3 linked regions of the Homo sapiens genome follow. The protein of the gene in region 3 interacts with the protein of the main gene of each other region in a biochemical or structural test. Each region holds a gene or a part of one and is shown on either strand. Other genes may lie near its edges. The genes, in order: NUP88, TNPO1 and NUP98.

Region 1 (3,655 bases), on a different chromosome or scaffold from region 3:
TTTACTCTGTCACCCAGGCTGCAATCTTCCTACCTCAGTCTCCTGAGTAGCTGGGACTACCGGCACATGCCATTATGCCCAGCTAATTTTTTTTGCAGAGACAGGATCTCACTGTATTGCCCACATTGGTCTCGAACTCAGGGGCTCAAATGATCCTCCCACCTCGGCCTCCCAAAGTGCTGGGATTACAGGTGTGAGCCACTGCAACCAGCCAAGATGAGTTTTAAACTGGACACACTGTTTTCATAACTAGAAGTAACGAGAAAGCTATGGGGATCTGTATAAGACATCATTAAGGGGTGAGTCATTCAGCAGTGAAGGAAGATTTAGTAGAGCACAGTTAAAAGCAGTGATTACGAAAAATAAAACTGAAGGTATCTGTACCTCTGCTGAGTCCCCCCAATAACTTTTTACATAAGGCCGATCCAGAAAGTTAGCTGATAATAGAGTAGAAATCTACGTAGCATTAGGGCATTTAATCATAGAGTGCAAAGCTTGGAAGGGGCGTTAGAAACTATTGAATCAAACCTGCTCAATTTAAAAGATTGGAAACTGAGCCCCCCAACCCCTAAAAAGCTCAAGATCTCAAAGATAACAGAAAAGGAGGTGGGACAATAATTCAAATCTCTAAATTTACACTTACATTCTCTTTCCTTTATGCTACATTATTACCAAAAGGGTGACAATGATGAAAGAGTTTTGGAAAGATTATTCTAAGGTGTCAGATTAGGAGAGGAGATACCTGGAGGCAGGAAGACTAGTTGAGAAGGAATAGTGGTAAGTTAGAGCAGTTAGGCAATTCTTATGATTGAGAATGGGTTACAACAGCCATCCAATAAAAGCACTGACTCATTCAATGACTCACTTCGTTCTATGTTGAGCTGTTAATTGGCAAACAGAAACAGAGCTTTCCCACTCGCAAGGCTTCAAGAGAGAGAAATAAAATTTACCTGATTACGTTGTCTGATGTTAACAGCACTACGTGGGGATCCAGGATTTCACTTGGATACCATGCAGCATGCTTTAGAGTCAGAGAGGTGGAACTGGTGAAAAATCTCTCCGCAACTGGAGTGGTACTAAAATAAAGATAATAATTTTCCAAAACATTTTGTACAACTTGGATGAAAATCTTCTAAAGGAACTTCTTTTTTTTGCAGATGGAGTTTCTCTCTTGTTGCCCAGGCTGGAGTGTAACGGCACAATCTCGGCTCACTGCAACCTCCGCCTCCCAGGTTCAAGTGATTCTCCTGCCTCAGTCTTTCAAGTAGCTGGGATTACAGGCACCTGCCACCTCGCCCAGCGAACTTTGTATTTTCAGTAGAGAGGGGGTTTCTCCATGTTGGTCAGGCTGGTCTCAAACTCCCGACCTCAGGTGATCTGCCCACCTCGGCCTCGCAAAGTGCTGGGATTACAGGCATGAGCCACCACGCCAGGCCCTGAAGAAATTTCTATTTTAACACTCTTTGATTCTCTTTCCTTCAGATTTATTTCCCTGAAATCATGCTGAGAGGACATTCAAGGCATCTATTCAATCAATATCAAAGAATTGAAATAAAAATATCTTCTAAATTATAGCACACTGGCTGGGCGCAATGGCTCACGCCTATCTTAGCACTTTGGGAGGCCAAGGCAGGTGGATCACCTGAGGTCAGGAGTTTGAGACCAGCCTGGCCAACATGGTAAAACCCCGTCTCCACTAAAAATACAAGAATTAGGCAAGTGTGGTGGCACATGCCTGTAACCCGTTACCCGTGAGGCTGAGGCAGAAGAATCGCTGGAACCCAGGAGGTGGAGGCTGCAGTGAGCTGAGCTTGTGCCACTGCACTCCAGCCCGGGCTGAGGAGGTTGCAGTGAGCTGAGATCACGCCACTGCACTCCAGCTTGGGCTACAGAGCCAGACTCTGTCTCAAAATAAATAAATAATTTATTTATTTTAATAATTTAAATTATTTATTTAAATTTTATTTGTTTATTTATTTGAGATGAAGTCTCACTCTGTGGCCCAAGCTGGAGTGCAGTGGCGTGATCTTTGCTCACTGCAACCTCCGCCTCCTGGATTTAATCAATACTTGTGCCTTAACCTCCTGAGTAGCTGGGACTACAGGCGTGTGCCACCACACCCCACTTATTTTTTGTATTTTAGTAGAAATGAGGTTTCACCATGTTGCCCAGGGTGGTCTCAAGCTCCTGAGCTCAGGTGATCCACCTGCCTCGGCCTCCCAAAGTGCTGGGATTACAGGTGTGAGCCATCGTGCCTGGCTCCAAATTATAGCATATTTCATACGTATATATACATTTTAGGATGGTTTGACTTAGGATTGATACATATTTATACAGTACAAGTGTTTTCAGATATAGTATCTCATTTGATCTTTTTACTAACCCTGTAAGGAAATTACAAGGGCAGATATTATCAATCCTATTTTTAAAATGAGGAAACAGATTTAGAAGGTAAACAGTTTAAGGGGACTCAACTTATAAGTTGCGGAGCTAAAAGCAGTTTCTACCTTATACAGATGATCCCCAACTTTACAATGGGTTTACCAGTACATAAGCCAACATAAACTGAGGAGCTCCTTACGACTTATGATGGGGTTACCCATCATAATGTTGAAAAATCCTACGTTGAACCATCCTAAATCGGGGATCCTCTGCTGTGTTGTCAGCAATAAATCCATTTTCAACTTACACTGGGTTTATCGGGACATAACCCAATCGTAAGTTGAAAAGCATCTGTACTCTTTTCAGTAGATCTTTCAGATTCACTTTTCTGGATTTGTTGAAAAAGAAATTATATAAAAATAGGCCAGGTGCGGTGGCTCACACCTATAACCCCGGCACTTTGGGAGGCTAAGGTGGGTGGATCACTTGAGGTCAGGAGTTCAAGACCAGCTTGGTCAACATGGTGAAACCCCGTCTCTACTAAAAATACAAAAATTAGCTGGGCATGGTAGCGCTTGCCTGTAATCCCAGTTACTCGGGAGGCTGAGGCAGAAGAATCGCTTGAATCCAGGAGGCGGAGCTTGCAGTGAGCCGAGATTGTGCCACTGCACTCCAGCCTGGGTGACAGAGCAAGACTCCATCTCAAAAAAAAAAAAAAAAAAAAAAGTATATATATATATACACACATACACACACACACACACACATAAAATACTTACACTTCTGGCAAACTTCTGGCTGACAGATAACTGGTTTTACAAAATCTTACTTCTACCTAATCGAAAGAATGGCCTAGCCTCAAATGAGACAGCAACGTGGTACTTCAGGCAGAATAAAGTACAATCAATTACACATATACTATGAACATTGATAACACAGAAGCCAGTCTGCAGACCACGAGGAGTGTTTTAATGTTTTAAGAGTAGTATACTAAACATGCTTAAGAACCACTAGTCTTGAACAATTTTCTGTATATATAATAAATTATACAGATAAATAGTATACAACTTACCTACAATTCACTGTTGATTTTCCACCTTCAAATTCAGAATTCTTCCCCCATCTTTTAGGTAATTCTAATACCATAAGTCCTTTTATTCCTATAAGTGCTACATGATGTTGTGTTGGGCTTAACAAGACTTGATAGATTTCAAACAGGGGTGGATTTATGCAAAGCAATCTCTGAAAATTAGAGCAAACCAGTCAACATAGT
Region 2 (3,655 bases), on a different chromosome or scaffold from region 3:
TTATTCTTCCTAGTGCCTATCTTCAGTTGCCACAGCACTGCAGTCTGGATTCCTTCCGTACTGTGAACCTGTGTATCAGCGTTGTGTAAACCTAGTACAGAAGACTCTTGCACAAGCCATGGTAATTTTTTTAAAATGTCTTCCTCTTCTTGACATGGTGGACATTTTTCTAAAGATAGGTATAATGTATACAGACTTTTTAAGTAGTTAATTAAAACCAAACTTACAAAAAACATTGTGTCTAATTTCAGCTAAACAATGCTCAACCAGATCAATATGAAGCTCCAGATAAAGATTTTATGATAGTGGCTCTTGATTTACTGAGTGGCCTGGCTGAAGGACTTGGAGGCAACATTGAACAGCTGGTAGCCCGAAGTAACATCCTGACACTAATGTATCAGTGCATGCAGGTGAGACTTGAAAGGTGAAAATGAATTGAAGCCTGTTTCTCTGTGTCACATTGGGGTTAATTTCTTCTTATTTCTTGTAGGATAAAATGCCAGAAGTTCGACAGAGTTCTTTTGCCCTGTTAGGTGACCTCACAAAAGCTTGCTTTCAGCATGTTAAGCCTTGTATAGGTATGAATATTTTCTACTGCTATGAATATGGTTTTTTAAAGTTAACATTTACATCAGCTTTGTTTTTTTATTATTAAACTGAAATTGCATGGAATCCCAACATTTATAAATGTACACTTTATTGGTTAAAGTAAACTTGCTGTGATTGAAACAGGCAAGATGGCAGGAACCCCTAATATTTCCTTGAGCTTGCCATCATCTCAGCTTTTTAGGTACTCCTGTGACTGGAGGAAAGCTTAGTAATATACTTTAGAGTAAAGGACATGCCCACCAGGGAAGCCTTGGTACCATGGACTAGTTAATAGATTCTTTTTTGAGTAGCCACCTTTTTGGTAGAGGTACACAGAAATAGTAATAATCAGGTTTTCTTCTCTAGCAAACCAGCATACTTTTTCAGATATTGCAGAAAACTTCCAACAAATGTCACTTTAACTGAGACTGGGCCTGGGGGCTCACACCTGTAATGCCAGCACTTTGGGAAGCCAAGGCAGGCAGATCACTTGAGGTCAGGAGTGCGAGATTCGAGACTAGCATAGCATTTGTCTTGGCCTTCTGTGACAATGATAAGAAATTCCTTGAATGTTGTACCCGGAATTGTTCTTAAACCTATGGGTTATAAATGAGTTATGGGATTTTTTTCCCCCTTTTCTGCATCTCAGCATGTTGGGTAACAATTATTTTAATACAGCCGGGCACGGCGGCTCAGACCTGTAATGCCAGCACTTTGGAAGGCCAAGGCGGGCAGGTCACGAAGTCAGGAGATCAAGACCATCCTGGCTAACACGGTGAAACCCCGCTTCTACTAAAAATACAAAAACTTAGCCAGGCGTGGTGGCTTGTGCCTGTAGTTCTAGCTACTTGGGAAACTGAGGCAGGAAAATCGCTTGAACCCGGGAGGCAGAGTCTGCAGTGAGCTGATACTGTACCACTACACTCCAGCCTGGGCAACAGAGCAAGACTCCGTCTCAAAAAAAATTATTTTAATACTTCATTTAAACCTTAATTTAAAATATTAATTGAATGTTTTGTCATCTGATATAATTGTGCTTTTGGATAACCATTTCTCAAAAAACTAACATAATTAACATTAATTATGATATATTAAGAACCATCAAGTTTAAACCTAACAGTGTAATGAATTCTTATGGGAAGCTTATCATTCTCATATTTACCACCTAATTTAGTTTTTTAGTTGAAACTTATATGAAAGGATTTAATTTTTTTATTATAAAGTGTTTAAGACGTACAAAAGTAGAAAAAATGTAACAAACCTCCTATCACCCAGCTTCAACTGTCCAGTCCTGTTTCCTATATACTGTTGTCAGTGGTGAGACACATAGATCTCAGATATTTTGGAGCAAATCTCAAACACAGCATTTGAAGTCTTAATATTTTAGTACATACTATACTATCTCTTCTTACAATTGTTTTTTGTTAAAGAAACCATGTTTTTTATTCTAAAGAGTTTCCTTTACTGTGGATTTTACTGATTGCATCTTTGTTGTCTTTAACATGTTCCTCTGTCCGTTGTATTTACTGTAAATTGTTTGGATACAGAGACTGAGGTTTAATGAGATTTACGTTGTTTTGTTTTTAAGACTTTATAGATGGTATTGTGTACTTAGTGTACATAGTGTCTAGTTGTCCCTCCTTTTTTTTTTTTTAATGTTACCAATCTTGATGATTGTCTCAATTAGTGGTTCTCAACTAGGGGCAATTTTGCCATTCGGGGAACATTTGCCAGTGTCTGGAGACATTTTGTTTGATGCTGGAGAGGTGCCATTGATGTCTAGTGGGTAGAAGCAAAGGATGTTGCTAAACATCTTATAATACAGGAGACAGCTCCCCTTCCCCCCAACAAAAAAATGATCTGGCCCAAACTGTCAATATTGCTGAGATCAAGAAACCCTGGCTTACATCTCCTGATTTATTAGGAGTTTAAAAAATTATGATATTCTAATTCTTCATTTAATAATGAAGATACTTATATAGGGAGACATTTCCCATATCAATAAATTACTATCCTGAGGTAAAATCATATAGCAGAGGCAAGATAAATACTTGATTCTTTTTTTTATTTACCAATTTTCAAAATAATGAATTGATTCCTATCATCCTCCAAAGGTATCTTTGATGTTTCAGAGTTTTGTTTTTGTTTGATTGTTTTTAGTGCTAGTGTGACTTCATGATGTTCAAGCTGTTGTACTGCTTGCAGTGAGAACTTAAGTTGGCTCCCGAGTCCTTTCATTATGACAAGATAGTCCACTTATTTTGCACATTTCCTGCCTTTGCCTGTAATGTGACGTTTTCTGAGAGTCCATTTTTTTTTAGTGGAAAATGTTATTCAGAGACCACAATCAGAGCACAAGAGTGAAAATTGCTTTAAAAGCCAAAATCATTGATTTTTTTTTTTTAGTCTAATTACAAGAGATTACTCTGACCAACTCTTTTTAGTGGTATGTAAAATATACCCAAACTTGTATTTCCTGTTCCACATTATTTGAAAGTTCATTGGCCAGATACTGTTTTCTTCAGTTTCTTAAGATAAACATTACCAACTCCTTTAAAAAATATTTTTAAATACAGTTGCCTAGTTTATTTCCACCAATTTTAAAATTGATGTTGCAGTAATTTTTTTAATGGTGAAACTTGTTATTTCTTGCTTAGATTTCTGTTTCCACCTAGTAGATTTCCTTTAAAGTACAATATACTGCTATTGAAAAGTTTACTACATAGTTTAAATTTTTTTTCTAGCTGATTTCATGCCAATATTGGGAACCAACCTAAATCCAGAATTCATTTCAGTCTGCAACAATGCCACATGGGCAATTGGAGAAATCTCCATTCAAATGGGTAAGATGTTTTTCCCTATTTAAAAGCATAAGGCCTGGCGCGGTGGCTCACGCCTGTAATCCCAGCACTTCGGGAGGCTGAGGCGGGCAGATCACCTGAGGTCAGGAGTTTGAGACCAGCCTGGTTGACATGGTGAAACCCCGTCTCTACTAAAAATACAAAAATTAGCTGGCGTGGTAGCGGGTGCCTATAATCCCAACTATTTGGGAGGCTGAGTCAGGAGA
Region 3 (3,655 bases):
TCTCGAGCTCCTGACCTCAAGTGATCTGCCCGCCTTGGCCTCCTAAAACGTTGGTATTACATGCGTGAGCCACCGTGCCCAGCCTTGTACAGTGATTCTTAATAGTTAGGTATATATTCTTTCATATCAGAAATTTATTTATTTATTTTTTTTTTTTGAGATGGAGTTTTGCTCTTATTACCCAGGCTGGAGTGCAGTGGCACGATCTCGGCCCACTGTATCCTCTGATGTGAATTGTTCAAGCAATTCTCCTGCCTCAGCCTCCTGAGTAGCTGGGATTACAGGCATGCACCTCCACGCCCAGCTAATTTTTTTTGTATTTTTAGTAGAAACAGGGTTTCGCCATGTTGGTCAAGCTGGTCTTGAACTCCTGACCTCAAGCGATCCACCCGCCTCGGCCTCACAAAGTGCTGGGATTACAAGCGTTATCCACCACACCCAGCCGAAATTTCTTTCTTTATAAATATATTTTATTATATAAAGATTATGCACGAATGATATATTCTGTAACCTGCTTATTTCCATTTATTTTATTAGAAATGCCTTTCCATTATCTGTATGAATATATTTGTCTTTTCTTTTTTAATGATTGCATAAGTCATTATTGTGAATGTAAGATAACTTGACCAGTTCCTTGTTAGTGGACATTTAGATTATCCGGTATTCCTGTACTCAAAACAGTGCTTCAGTAAAAATCCTTATATACTGGCACAAGTTCTCAGGGCCTCCTGAGGGCTGTATCACGAAAAAGAAAAAAAAAAAAAGAAACCCTTTGTATAGACACCTTTGTACTCCTGTTTTTTTTTTCTTTTGGATAAAATTCTAGTGTTTTTTATTATTATTATTATTTATAAAGCATTTTTTAACATTTTGTTGATTGTAATCTTAAAAATCTAACATTTTTTTCAGTTTTTAATCTTAAAATTAACCAATTATTTGATTCCATATAGGAGAGTATACAATAGAGATAGTAATTATCTGTTTCACAGTACTGCTGTAGTAAGTATTAAGTGAATTTTTAATACATGGAACTATCCAGAACAGTGCCAGGCACTTAGTAAAGGCTCGGTATTAGTTAGCTATTATCATTGTTATTACTACTACAAGAGGCTAAGGTATTATTTCTTTTCCTTTGCAGATTTAGTTTCCTAAGCAAACCTGTTGATGAGAATCACCAGCAGGATGGAGATGAAGATTCCCTTGTTTCACATTTTTATACTAACCCTATTGCCAAACCTATTCCTCAAACCCCAGAAAGTGCTGGAAATAAACACAGCAACAGCAACAGTGTGGATGATACCATTGTTGCATTAAACATGCGTGCTGCTTTGCGAAATGGGCTGGAAGGAAGCAGTGAAGAAACGTCTTTTCATGATGAGTCACTTCAGGATGACCGAGAAGAAATAGAAAATAATTCTTACCATATGCACCCAGCAGGTCAGGTTCAGATTGGTGCATGTTTAATCTCTTACCAGTCATTCGAGATGACTTGCTTGTTGCAGATATTCAACATATGGAAGTCAGCTGTTTGGCATTTTAAGTATTATTTTATGTGATCCCACATAGGAGAGCTTAATATTTAAACAGTTTTATGCTTTAGTTGATTCAGAGTTCACATACTCTTTGGACCTTAGAGTATGAAAATTGATACATCTTTAATTATCCTGGTGTAGTCTAAAGAACCCAAATTTTATAGCCAAAGAGACTATCCTGATATTTTCCCTGGCTTTGTAAACTCGGATAGATTGCTTATTGTTTTTTGTTTGTTTGTTTGTTTTTTCTTGAGACAGTGTCGCTCTGTCGCCCAGGCTGGAGTGCAGTGTCGCAGTCTTGGCTCACTGCAACCTCAACCTCCAGGGATCAGGACCTCTCATCTCAGCCACCCGAGTAGCTGGCACTACAGGCACATGATACCACACCCCGTTAAGTTTTGCATCTTTTGTTTTGCCATGTTTCCTGGGCTGGTCTCAAAATCCTGGGCTCAAGTGATCCTCCTATCTTGGCCTCCCAAAGTGCTAGGATTACAGGCATGAGCCACCATGCCCAGCCCATTTTGGGTGTTTTGTGGTATTCTTGAAGTGTCTCCAAAATTTATATTTAGTTTTCTTATTGCCATTATATATATATATATATTTGGTTACTTAGTATCATAAGGAAAGAAGTTTATACTTTGACAGTAAGAATCCCAGGTAGCCTGGGTGTGGTGGCTCAGCACTTTGGCAGGCTTAGGTGGGAGGATCGTTTGAACCCAGAAGTTTGAAATCAGTCTGGGCAACATAGCAAGACCTGATATCTACAATAAACTTAAAAGTAATTAGCCAGGTGTGGTGGCATGTACCTGTAGTTGCAGCTACTACGGAAGCTGAGGTGGGAGGATCACTTGAACCCAGGATTCAAGGTTGCAGTGAGCTATGATTATGCCACTGAACTCCAGCCTGGGTTGACAGACCAAGATCCTGTCTCCTAAAAAAAAAAAAAAAAAAAAAAAGAATTCCAGGTGCTTAATCTGTATTTGTGTATGTATCTCTACATGAATTTATTATGCTACTATATATCTTTTTAATAGGAAGTTTTATATTCTAGTTTTTTCATTTACCTTGTTTGCTGCCACCCAATTTAGAGTTCCCTTCCCAAGAAGCAAGTATACAAGTGGGTGTTGCTGGAGGCTGGAGTTTGGTCTGATGTTGGCCTGAAATACTTTTCTCTCAGAGAGCAAGTTAGCCTTATATCTGACTACAAGTAGGACAAGGAGTGAATAGAGCAAGCAAGCACACCAGCGTTCCACTACTTTCCTTGAGTTTTTCAGCGCTCTGCTTTTTTTATTTTGGTATTTTTTTTTCTATTTTAATTTATTCTTTCTTTCTTCTTTTCTTCCTTCCTCCCTCCCTCCCTTCCTTCCGAGTTTCACTCTTGGTTGCCCAGGCTGGAGTGCAGTGGTGTGATCTCAGCTCACTGCATCCTCTGCCTCCCAGGTTCAAGCGATTCTCCTTCCTCAACCTCCCGAGTAGCTGGGATTACAAGCACCCGCCACCATGCCCAGCTAATTTTTGTATTTTTGGTAGATAATGGATTTTTGCCATGTTAGCCAGGCTTGTCTTGGACTCCTGGCCTCAAGTGATTTACTCACCCCGGCCTCCCAAAGTCCTTGGATTACAGGCATGAGCCACCTTGCCTGGCTGGATTTTTCATCTTTCTTTTAGCTCTTTATTTGGGAGTGTAAATTTGAAAAATAAAAGAGGTTTATGCAAAACAGGCAATGAAACAAGAAGAATTGGGTTTGGAGTTTTATATCTACTTCTATTGTTAAATTACAGTATAAGCCAACACAAGTTATTTCCACTGTAGGTTTTGGTATCCTTGTGTGTAAAATAAAATAAAAAGCTGATTAAGCTTTTCTCAGAGTATTTTATGAGATACCTTTTATAGTCCGGGATGTTAATGGGTGTCCTTTGAAAATAATGTTCTGTGGTTAAATCTGGAAAAACACGAGGTTAAGCAGAGTTTAATAGGCTATTTACTGTAAGTTTTAGACTCTTTGATGTATCATATGTATGTTCTTCAAACCTATTTGACCATGAAGCTTTTCACACACACACACACACACACACACACACACACTCACACACCCCTTCTCCTAGGAATCATGTTTGGTAGA

Evidence for each region.
Region 1: the proteins of NUP98 (region 3) and NUP88 form a complex in vitro, tested with the Homo sapiens proteins (2 studies listed by BioGRID).
Region 2: the proteins of NUP98 (region 3) and TNPO1 form a complex in vitro, tested with the Homo sapiens proteins (one study listed by BioGRID).

Annotation. Positions count from the first base shown.
Region 1 is NC_000017.11:5,413,059-5,416,713, forward strand, and holds part of NUP88 (nuclear pore complex protein Nup88), read right to left. Parts: intron 3,625-3,655; coding exon 3,455-3,624; intron 1,077-3,454; coding exon 951-1,076; intron 1-950. UniProt on the Homo sapiens protein: Component of nuclear pore complex.
Region 2 is NC_000005.10:72,893,126-72,896,780, forward strand, and holds part of TNPO1 (transportin-1), read left to right. Parts: intron 1-13; coding exon 14-121; intron 122-251; coding exon 252-410; intron 411-490; coding exon 491-578; intron 579-3,332; coding exon 3,333-3,431; intron 3,432-3,655. UniProt on the Homo sapiens protein: Functions in nuclear protein import as nuclear transport receptor. Serves as receptor for nuclear localization signals (NLS) in cargo substrates.
Region 3 is NC_000011.10:3,720,939-3,724,593, reverse strand, and holds part of NUP98 (nuclear pore complex protein Nup98-Nup96 isoform 1 precursor), read left to right. Parts: intron 1-1,138; coding exon 1,139-1,437; intron 1,438-3,655. UniProt on the Homo sapiens protein: Plays a role in the nuclear pore complex (NPC) assembly and/or maintenance. NUP98 and NUP96 are involved in the bidirectional transport across the NPC. May anchor NUP153 and TPR to the NPC.